Linked DNA regions of Homo sapiens: region 1 is linked to region 2. A link means that fine-mapping ties the variant in region 2 to the expression of a gene that starts in the linked region. Tissue or cell type: sun-exposed skin. Region 2 holds a variant in brackets; the other region holds the start of a gene. All regions are shown on one strand. Distances are between the middles of the regions.

What was found. PIP is the estimated chance that this variant, and not a neighbour inherited with it, causes the effect. A credible set is the group of variants that fine-mapping cannot tell apart.
Region 1: it holds the start of RWDD2A, and the variant in region 2 is the best candidate, but not a certain one, in a credible set for the expression of RWDD2A in sun-exposed skin (GTEx, PIP 0.52).

Annotation. Positions count from the first base shown.
Region 1 is chr6:83,190,988-83,195,229 of GRCh38, reverse strand. It overlaps RWDD2A (RWD domain containing 2A), which reads right to left and starts at 1,873. Exons shown (of 3, transcript NM_033411.5): 1 at 1,787-1,873; 2 at 578-918. The coding sequence starts at 778. PGM3 (phosphoglucomutase 3) reads left to right here and starts at 1,965. Exons shown (of 13, transcript NM_015599.3): 1 at 1,965-2,051; 2 at 4,216-4,242. The coding sequence starts at 4,218. RefSeq lists silencers at 1,575-1,944, 2,245-2,314 and an enhancer at 1,503-2,002.
Region 2 is chr6:82,656,455-82,660,696 of GRCh38, reverse strand. All of the region lies in intron 5 of LOC105377876 (a long non-coding RNA gene), which reads left to right. Among named protein-coding and RNA genes, the nearest start is that of TPBG, 290 kb to the right of the region's middle. The variant C/A (reference allele first, on the strand shown) is at 1,692.

The sequences.
Region 1 (4,242 bases), 530 kb before region 2:
GACAGAATCCAGTCTGGAGAACCAGAAAGTCTCCTCTGAGGGAATAACAACTGAAGGATGAGTAGGAAATAGCTACAACAGTGGTTCTCAAATGCCCAGTCCACGTATTACCTATGCTATGCTAATGTTGCTGGAGATAAATGGATCAGAAGATGGAGGTAAATTCATTTTTAGTCTTTAGATTTTTCCATCCATATTTGCTTTCTGTGTTATGGTGCCATCAAAAAATCCACTCATTCACTCCTTAAAAGACAGTTATGTTACAGGAGATATTTAGATTTATGAAAATCATGATACATGTGAAAGGTAGTCCAACTGGATGGGTGAACAAAATAATAATGGCATAAGACTGCAAGATAGCGTCAATAAAAACTCCAGGTATATTTGTTAAAAAGGTGTATATGTTTACATAAAATTAAAGATATTTACTGAAGACAATTTATAGAGCATTCCGTATCTTTCAAACAAGGAAATATGCACCTGGAATATTTCTATCTTTCCTTGACAGAAAGCTCATGTTCTAGATGTTTCAATTAAAAACTGGGCACCTGGCAAACACTTAAATCAGGGTACCTACCTTGGGCTCTTCAATCTGGAGTGTAATTACAAATTCGATTTTTGGTGGCAGCGCCTCCCTTGTGCCTTCCAAATACCTCTTTATATTCGTCAGGGCATTTACATCTTCAAGTTTTACTTCTCCTTGGTTAGGAAACATAGAAAACAGCATTTCCATCTCCAGTAGCTGAAGCTGAAGGCTTTCTTTCACCGAAGCAGACATGTTGCCTCGCAATCAGCCTGCCTGGAAACCTCACAAGGCTCAGGGACGCTGGGTTTGTCAATGCCAGCCGGTATCCAGCGAAATTTCCCGAAGGTCCCTTTACGTGGAAGCAATTCTGCAGGAACGCTTTGCACCGAGAGCTAGGGGCACAAACCAGACACTTGCACTCTTCTTTATTTCCTGACTCCAAAATCTAGTATGCACAACATCCTCTAAAACACTCCGTAAAAACCCATATTCTGCGTACCCGGGCTCCGGGTTCCCGCCTCCCGCACCCCGCACTAGATAGGGGAATCTGCACTTTCAACAGGTGTTTGGAACTGTCCCGCTGCAGGTGGCAGGCAGACACCTGCAGACGCTCTGCAAGCCTGAATTCTGGGAAAGGCTGGGGCCCGGCTTCCAATCCCACCCGGGGCTCGGGCTTGGGCGGAGCCAGACGCTGCGGCGAGAGAGGCCGCAGTGCCAGCAGGATGGGCTCCGAGTTCCCCAGCGCCAGTCGCCACCCCTCGGTCCTGGACTCGCGGACCGCCCCCCCCCAACACCGCGGTGGCCTTTTCGCTTGGGCCGCATTCCAGGGCTCCGGACGTTTACGATTCACTGGCCTCTGCCCCGAGGGACCCAGGATAAGGGTAGGGGGTGTCTCAGAGGTCATTAAATAAAAGATGTTTACAGTGAGCTGGGGGAAGGGGGTACCCGGGGAGACGGCAGCCGGAGAAGGCTTCCCAGATTCAAAGGTTTGGGAGATGACCTCGACGTCGGAGAGGGGGATGCGGGCCGCCGGCGGCGCTCACTGTGGGCGAGGTCGCCCTGTCCGAGGCCCAGCGACGGGGCTGATTCCCCACCCCCGCCCCTAGCCAAGACCACTAGGAACCCCGGCTTCCCAGGAACGCAGGGCCTGCCGCCCCCAGAGGCCCGGATTTGGAGGCGGAGGCTGTGCCTCCGCGGCCGCAGTGCTCTGAGGGCCCGCGACCCTCGGCCCCAACCCCCGGGCCACCGCGGGGGCCTCACCCTTTCTGGTCACTCAATGGTAACAGCCCCAGACCCCGCTCGGAACCGCAGCCGCAGTTCCTCAGGCGCCAGCTGCGCGCGACCTGCGGCGAGGCGGGGGCGGGGCTGGCGGATAGTCCTCTGCCGTGATTGGCCAGGGGGCGTGGCGACGAGCCGGAAGCCACGCAGGGCCACGTCTGCGGTTCTGAGGACTGGGTTTGGGTGCAGACGTTGTTGCTTGGGCGCTTCTCCGCTGCGTGTAGGTGAAGGGGGCTTCCTGACCGAGGTAAGCCGGGCCCCGAGGCTCGGAGTTGAGAAGGGAGACTACCGGTCGGCAAGGGCTCGGTGGGAGCGGGACAGGTCAGATTCTCGGCCCGACGGAGGGGCTAGTGGTCTGGCGGGCGACTGACCGAGCGGCGGAGCGCGCGGGACACACCTACAGGCCCCTGCGCCCCGCGGGCGGGCTGGTCGGGACGGGCCGCGGGTCTCCTGCCGGGGCTCTGGTACGTGGACCTAGGCGGGGACCTCAGGGTGGAGTGCCGGGAATCACCCTTGTGCGGTGATTCGAGGGTAGGCGGGAGAGAGGCACCAAGGAGATTTGAAGATTGAATGGAGAGTAGGGGGATACTCTTAACTTTTTGCGTGGACGCTGGATTTGGCAAATATGCTTTCAATAAAGGCATTCGCAGAGGCATTGAAAGTAGTTGTAGGGCCTAAAACGCATGAAAGGATGAACTCATATTATCTGGACCTTTTTTTTTTTAATGGCTTTTTGGAGTTAACAGGACTGGTTTACACTCTTATGAATAATCATGACACATAACTGACTGCTCAGTTTTTACAAATATGTATTCATCCTTAGGAAAGAGATCTGATCACTGTCTTGAACTAAATTAGTTTACTGAATGCCAGCTTTTTCCAACTGGACAAAAGCAAGTATTTTTCACCATTTCTTGCAAGTTCTGTTCATTGAAGCAATGAAGGACAATAAAGAAAACAAAATTATGAGGCTAGCAGCTGGCGGACTGCTCCTCATCTCTGGGCTAATTGGGAATTAATTGACCCAGGAAATGTAGTATATGGACTACTGAAGGAAAACTACTGACTGAGGTTGGAAACCCCAAGTTCCACTTAATGGGAGTATCCCAGAGAAAACAGTATTAGTGGGCTAAGGGCCGATTTTTTGTTGTTGTTTGTTTTGAGACGGAGTCTCACCCTGTCGCCCAGCCTGGAGTGCAGTGGCGCGATCTCGGCTCACTGCGACCTCCACCCGCGGGTTCAAGCGATTCTCCTGCGTCAGCCTCCTGAGTAGCTGGGACTACAGGCGCGCACCACCACGCCAGGCTACTTTTTGTATTTTTAGTAGAGACAAGGGTCTCACCATGTTGGTCAGGCTGGTCTTGAATTCCTGACCTCGTGATCCGCCCGCCTTGGCCTCCCAAAATGCCGGGATTACAGGCCTGAGCCACCTCACCTGGCCTGTTTTTTTTTTTTTTTTTTTTTTTTGAGACCGAGTCTCCCTTTGTCACCCAGGCTGGAGTGCAGTGGCGCGATCTCGGCTCACTGCAACCTCTGCCTCCCGAGTAGCTGGGATTACAGGCGCCAGCTAACACGCCCGACTAATTTTTTTGTATTTTTAATAGAGAGGCGGTTTCGCCATGTTGGCCAGGCTGGTTTCAAACTCCTGACCTCAGGTGATCCGCCTGCCTTGGCCTCTCAAAGTGCTAAGATTACTGGCGTGAGCCACCGCTCCCGGCCGATGTTTTATTTTTAAAAGTAAAGGAAAAAGGTGGCATTCTTTCAGAAGAAGATATTGCTAGTTTTAGAGCAACATCTTAGAAGGGTGTCCTGATTGTTTTTAGCAAATGGAAAAAGATCTGGGTAGTCTTGGAGAAGAAACTGTTGCCTTTTGCTTTTCCTTTAAGAATATGTCTCTGTAGTTTGGGAGAAATAGCAAAAGAACCACAAAGATTTCTCAGATATTTGGGGATATGTAGTTTCAGTCCACTCAAGAATCTGACTTTAGGCCTCAATCCGTCACCAGCTATCTATGTTAATTTAGGTTAGTTTCCCTTTTTGTAAAATGAAATGATCTTTGAGCTCATTGGAGTCTCTGAATAGGTGTAAAATCTTCATTTTAGTTGAGAGTGGACCAATTTAAGTGTGCCCGGCGTCCAGGATAGTCCTGGAGCTAAAATGGGAGGAGAGTGGGGACAATCTGCTATCTGCCCTGAGTCTGCCCAGGAGTGGACATACCAAGTTGGACAACATCTTGTAGGTAATTCTAACCCACAGGACTTACTCTCCTGCCCATTGCTCTGTCAAACATAGGGTTCTTTGAGGAGGTTCAGGATGAGACAGACCTATTCGTTTGGGGTGGCAGTTTTTGAAGCAAATGGTTCTTAAGAAATTACTTGTTATGCCCGAAACAATATTTCTTAATTTTGTAGACATGGATTTAGGTGCTATTACAAAAT
Region 2 (4,242 bases):
GAGTCTGTGCTGTATCTCTTTTATCTGCTGCTTTTCACCACATTCTGAATTTCACCCTCTCATGTATTTGTGTTTTTGTTCCTCTCTAGCCCTGTTCTTAATATTCATCGTTGTCGTCATCATGATGATTATCTATCTGATATTCATATAAGAGAACAGCATGTTTGCATGTTCTAGTATTTTAGAAGTTTAATTAAAAACCAGGGACTTTTAAGCTCAGTTTGATCTGTTCTTTTAATCTTTTGGTCTTTGGCAATAAAATCCTCAAAATAAAAGCATTCTAGCTATTTTTAATTCATAGATTTTTACTTATTTGAATTGTAGATTTAAGATTTTTATCAAGTGTTTGTTACGTTTCTTTAAACTTTGAGATTTCCAAAGCTTCTCTGCAGACTAAAATAGAATCCACCTGCTTCCCTCTACCACTATCATGCATTATAAAGGGTGCTTTTATCCCCCTCTTAGATGGACACCTTTGAAAAATTCTAGTGAAAAAGTAGGATGTAAAATATGGTGATTTCCTTCACAGGCAGTCTTTATGGGACTGTATCTATTTTGTAAGGTAGAAAAAATTAGTTTTACAATCAGGGCCACCCCTCTCAGTGAAAAGGGGTTCAATCCAGCCTATGATCTAGCCCTGGTCCAGCATGGAGAAAGGAAAACTCCTTTTTCTACAGGGTCCATCCAAAGAGGTGACTTTTTCCTAATTCCTACAAACCACATGGCACATGCTAGAAGCAGCCATAGTAAGATACATTGAAGCAATTAAAAAATTTTTCTACAAAAGATAAAAATTGCCCCTCATTTATCTTTTTATACAAATCCAACAATGAAGTCATTGCCAAGTACGGCAACCATAACCCAAAGTCTCTTATGTTCCTGGGAGCATCAGAAATGTTTCCATTCTCCCAAATACACACATATGTATACACACACATAAACACATATATGGAGTGAATTCATTTTCAGTATGGCTGTTGCCCTATATTTAATGATATGCCAGAAGGTTGAAGGTACTAACATTTCTGCTATACATTCATATTGGGAAGAAATTAATTATATAAAATGTTATGTTGCTTTAAATATTCTTTGACTTTAGAAAATGATTTTTCTATAAAAAACTGCTAATGTTAGAATCATAACTAAATTTGTTTATCTGGAATCCAGAGTTATAGTCTTTTCAGTGTTAACTTGCATAATCTATTCTGTTTTGATGAGGAAGAGACAATGGCCAGTAAACAAGTTGACGACAGAGAATTCTAGAAATCAACTTTCAGACTGCCATAAACTAGATGACTATATTGATTCATCATGAAATTTATCTTCCAAACCTGAGCACTTTCGAGAGTGAAAGAGAGAACTATGCTTGGACTGTAGTGTTAACTGGGACGTTCCAGGTAAAGTGAAATATATGAAGACCCTGGTTATAAATCACAGAAAAATCTTAGTTAATAATTTAACATAGACTGTAAGATATAGTATTTCACTCTTTAAAAATGTCTTAAGCATGCACTAAATGTTTTATGGTGTGCTAGTTCTTTGTTAGTGTGTACAAACATGAATCTAATACACAGGTCTCAGCTTACAAATAGGAGATAAAAGATAGGCATGTGCAGCATGGTTTGGCTCTTTAAGATGCTGCTTCTGGCCCGGTAAGATGTATCAAGGCAGCCAGAAAAACTTATAATTCT[C/A]AGAACCAAGCGTTCAATGCTCTTTTGTCACTTCCTGGTTTTGCTCCCACCTTCCTCTTCCTCACTTCGTGATCTTATCCTCCCCAACCCAGGCTTAACAGGACCTGACCACTCTTTGCCTCTCTCCTCCAACGATTCTGGAAAAATGGCAGCTTACAACATGTTTTATGGATTTCTTTTTAGCCTTTTATAGCATGAGTTAATTTTATTTGCATATGTACACTGATTTGTTAGTGTGTGGGAGATTGTTTATTAGTCAATTTTCTCTTCGATGACTTATTTAAGATTTTCAGACCACAGCTGCAACTCATTTTGTGTTTTATTATGTATTATAATTTTATTTTAAAATTGTACCATGCATGTAGAATTCTCTCCTGTCTTAACTTATTTTTATGTCATCTCTCCTTGGCAAAAGTCATGATTCTTTTATTATAATCTGTCCAATAGAGAAGGAAAACAATAATAAACCAATTAAAAAGGAGGCAAGCTTTAAATTTCTCACTGACATAGTAATACTAGACCTACTGAATCTGTTCCTCGAATCTGTTACTGTGAGACTCCTACAATATTAGATATTCATTATTTATTTCTTAGCATACAGCATTTGGAAGACAATGATTGTAACTAAAGGAAAGAGAGCTAATTGCAGAAAGTCCAATATGAGATCCAGTGATGACTGGTTCTATATTGCCCCAAGAGAAGCAGCTATTTAGCCATTATCTCTTCGATCTGATCATTACAGACAGTCAAACTAGAAAATTAAAGCCTCAAATAAAGAGCTCTCAGAGAATCTCTGGAAGGATCATTTATAAACTTGATTCAATTCTAAGAGTTTGTAATTTCAAAAGTGAGAGTAGAAGTCATATTTAGGAAAATATGAAGCCTTCAACTTTAAAGATAATCAATTCTTCCCTGTTTATTGTATGCCTAGCAATGTAGAGTGCTGGAGTTTTAGCAGCAAATAAAATAGTTCACTTCCCTGCCTTTAAGGCTTTTCACTGTAGCAAAGAAGACATTGCACATGCATGTTTCCGAGGACACATACATGGATGCATAAGAGCTATGAAGATGAATCATAGGCTGATAGACATTCGAATTTGGAGGGAGCATTTTGACTATGCAATGCCAGTACCAAGTGAAATTGTTTCTAAGAGGTGAGAGTGTTTCAGCAGGTGGAGTTAATGTGGCTGGGAAGGCAGAGGTCATGGGCAAAGGAATGAGGGAAGGGCTTGGTAGACTATAGAAAATAGTATGGTGTCCCTCAGAAAATTAAAAATAGAGTTACTATATGATTTGGCAATTCTACTTTTTGGTATATACCCAAAAGAACTGAAAGGAGAGTTTCTAAGAAATATTTGTATTCCCATGTTCACAGCAGCATTATTCACAATAGCCCAACGGTGGAAGCAACCCAACTGTCCATTGATAGATAAATGGATAAACAAAATGTGGTGTATACACACAGTGAAATATTTTTTCAGCCTTAAAAAGGAAGGAAACCCTAACACATGCTACAACTTGGAGGAACCTTGAGGACATTAAGCTAAGCAAAATAAGCCAGTCAGAAAAAGGCAAATATTGTGTTTTTCATTGATATGAGGTACCTATAGAATGGTCAAATGCATAGAGACAGAACATAGAATGGTGGTTGACAGGCTGGAGTGAGGACAAAATGTGGGGTTGTTTAAAGGGTCTAGAGTTTCACAACATGAAAATAGTTTTGGAGATTGGTTGCACATACTTAACAATATTGAACTGTACACTTCTAGTGGTTAAGATGATAAATTTTATGTTATGCATATTTTATCACAATTTTAAAAGAGAGAGAGAAAGAGATATGCTAGAGTGTGTCCATAGATCTTGAGCAGTGGAGACAAAAAAAAGGGATCAAAGTTAGCTTTAAGATTTTAAGCTTATATGACTGACTGAGAGAAAAATGGCAACATTAGTGAGGGAGAAATTGGGTGGAGAAGGTTGGTGTGGGTGGTTGGGGTAGAAAGGTTTGGTGGAGATGATGACTTGGATTTTAAAATGTTCACCTGGAGGATGTGGTGGGACATCTTGTTGGTGGTAATTTGAGAAGAAGAGCTAAAAATATGTCATTTATCCTTTTCTTAGGTTAATAAAACTTACCTATCATGTATTTGGTAAGGTTATTTATCATGATGTAAAAATGACTTTTTGAGTAATTATCCTTTTCAGGTAAAATTGTCAAAGGTTTATGGTTATGTTGCTTCAGAGTGATTTTAATGACAGAAATTCCAGGAAAAATAGCAGGGCATATGTGCTTGAACAAAGTCTTTTTATATTCCTTAGATGATACTTGATGAACAGGGAGTGACATCAGTATCCAACTTTATAACTTGAGTCAAAATTACTCAGCCCAACTATGATGGGTTTTCCCTCTCCTATAGTCTTAGATGATCTTCTGACTTTTGCCGTCCACCTGCTGTGAGGGGAAAAACAACATAATTGGTTTAAGCTCCTTGGATATTTCTCAATGAAATGGGGGTCATAATATTATATAAACTATAAAAATATACTATTATTG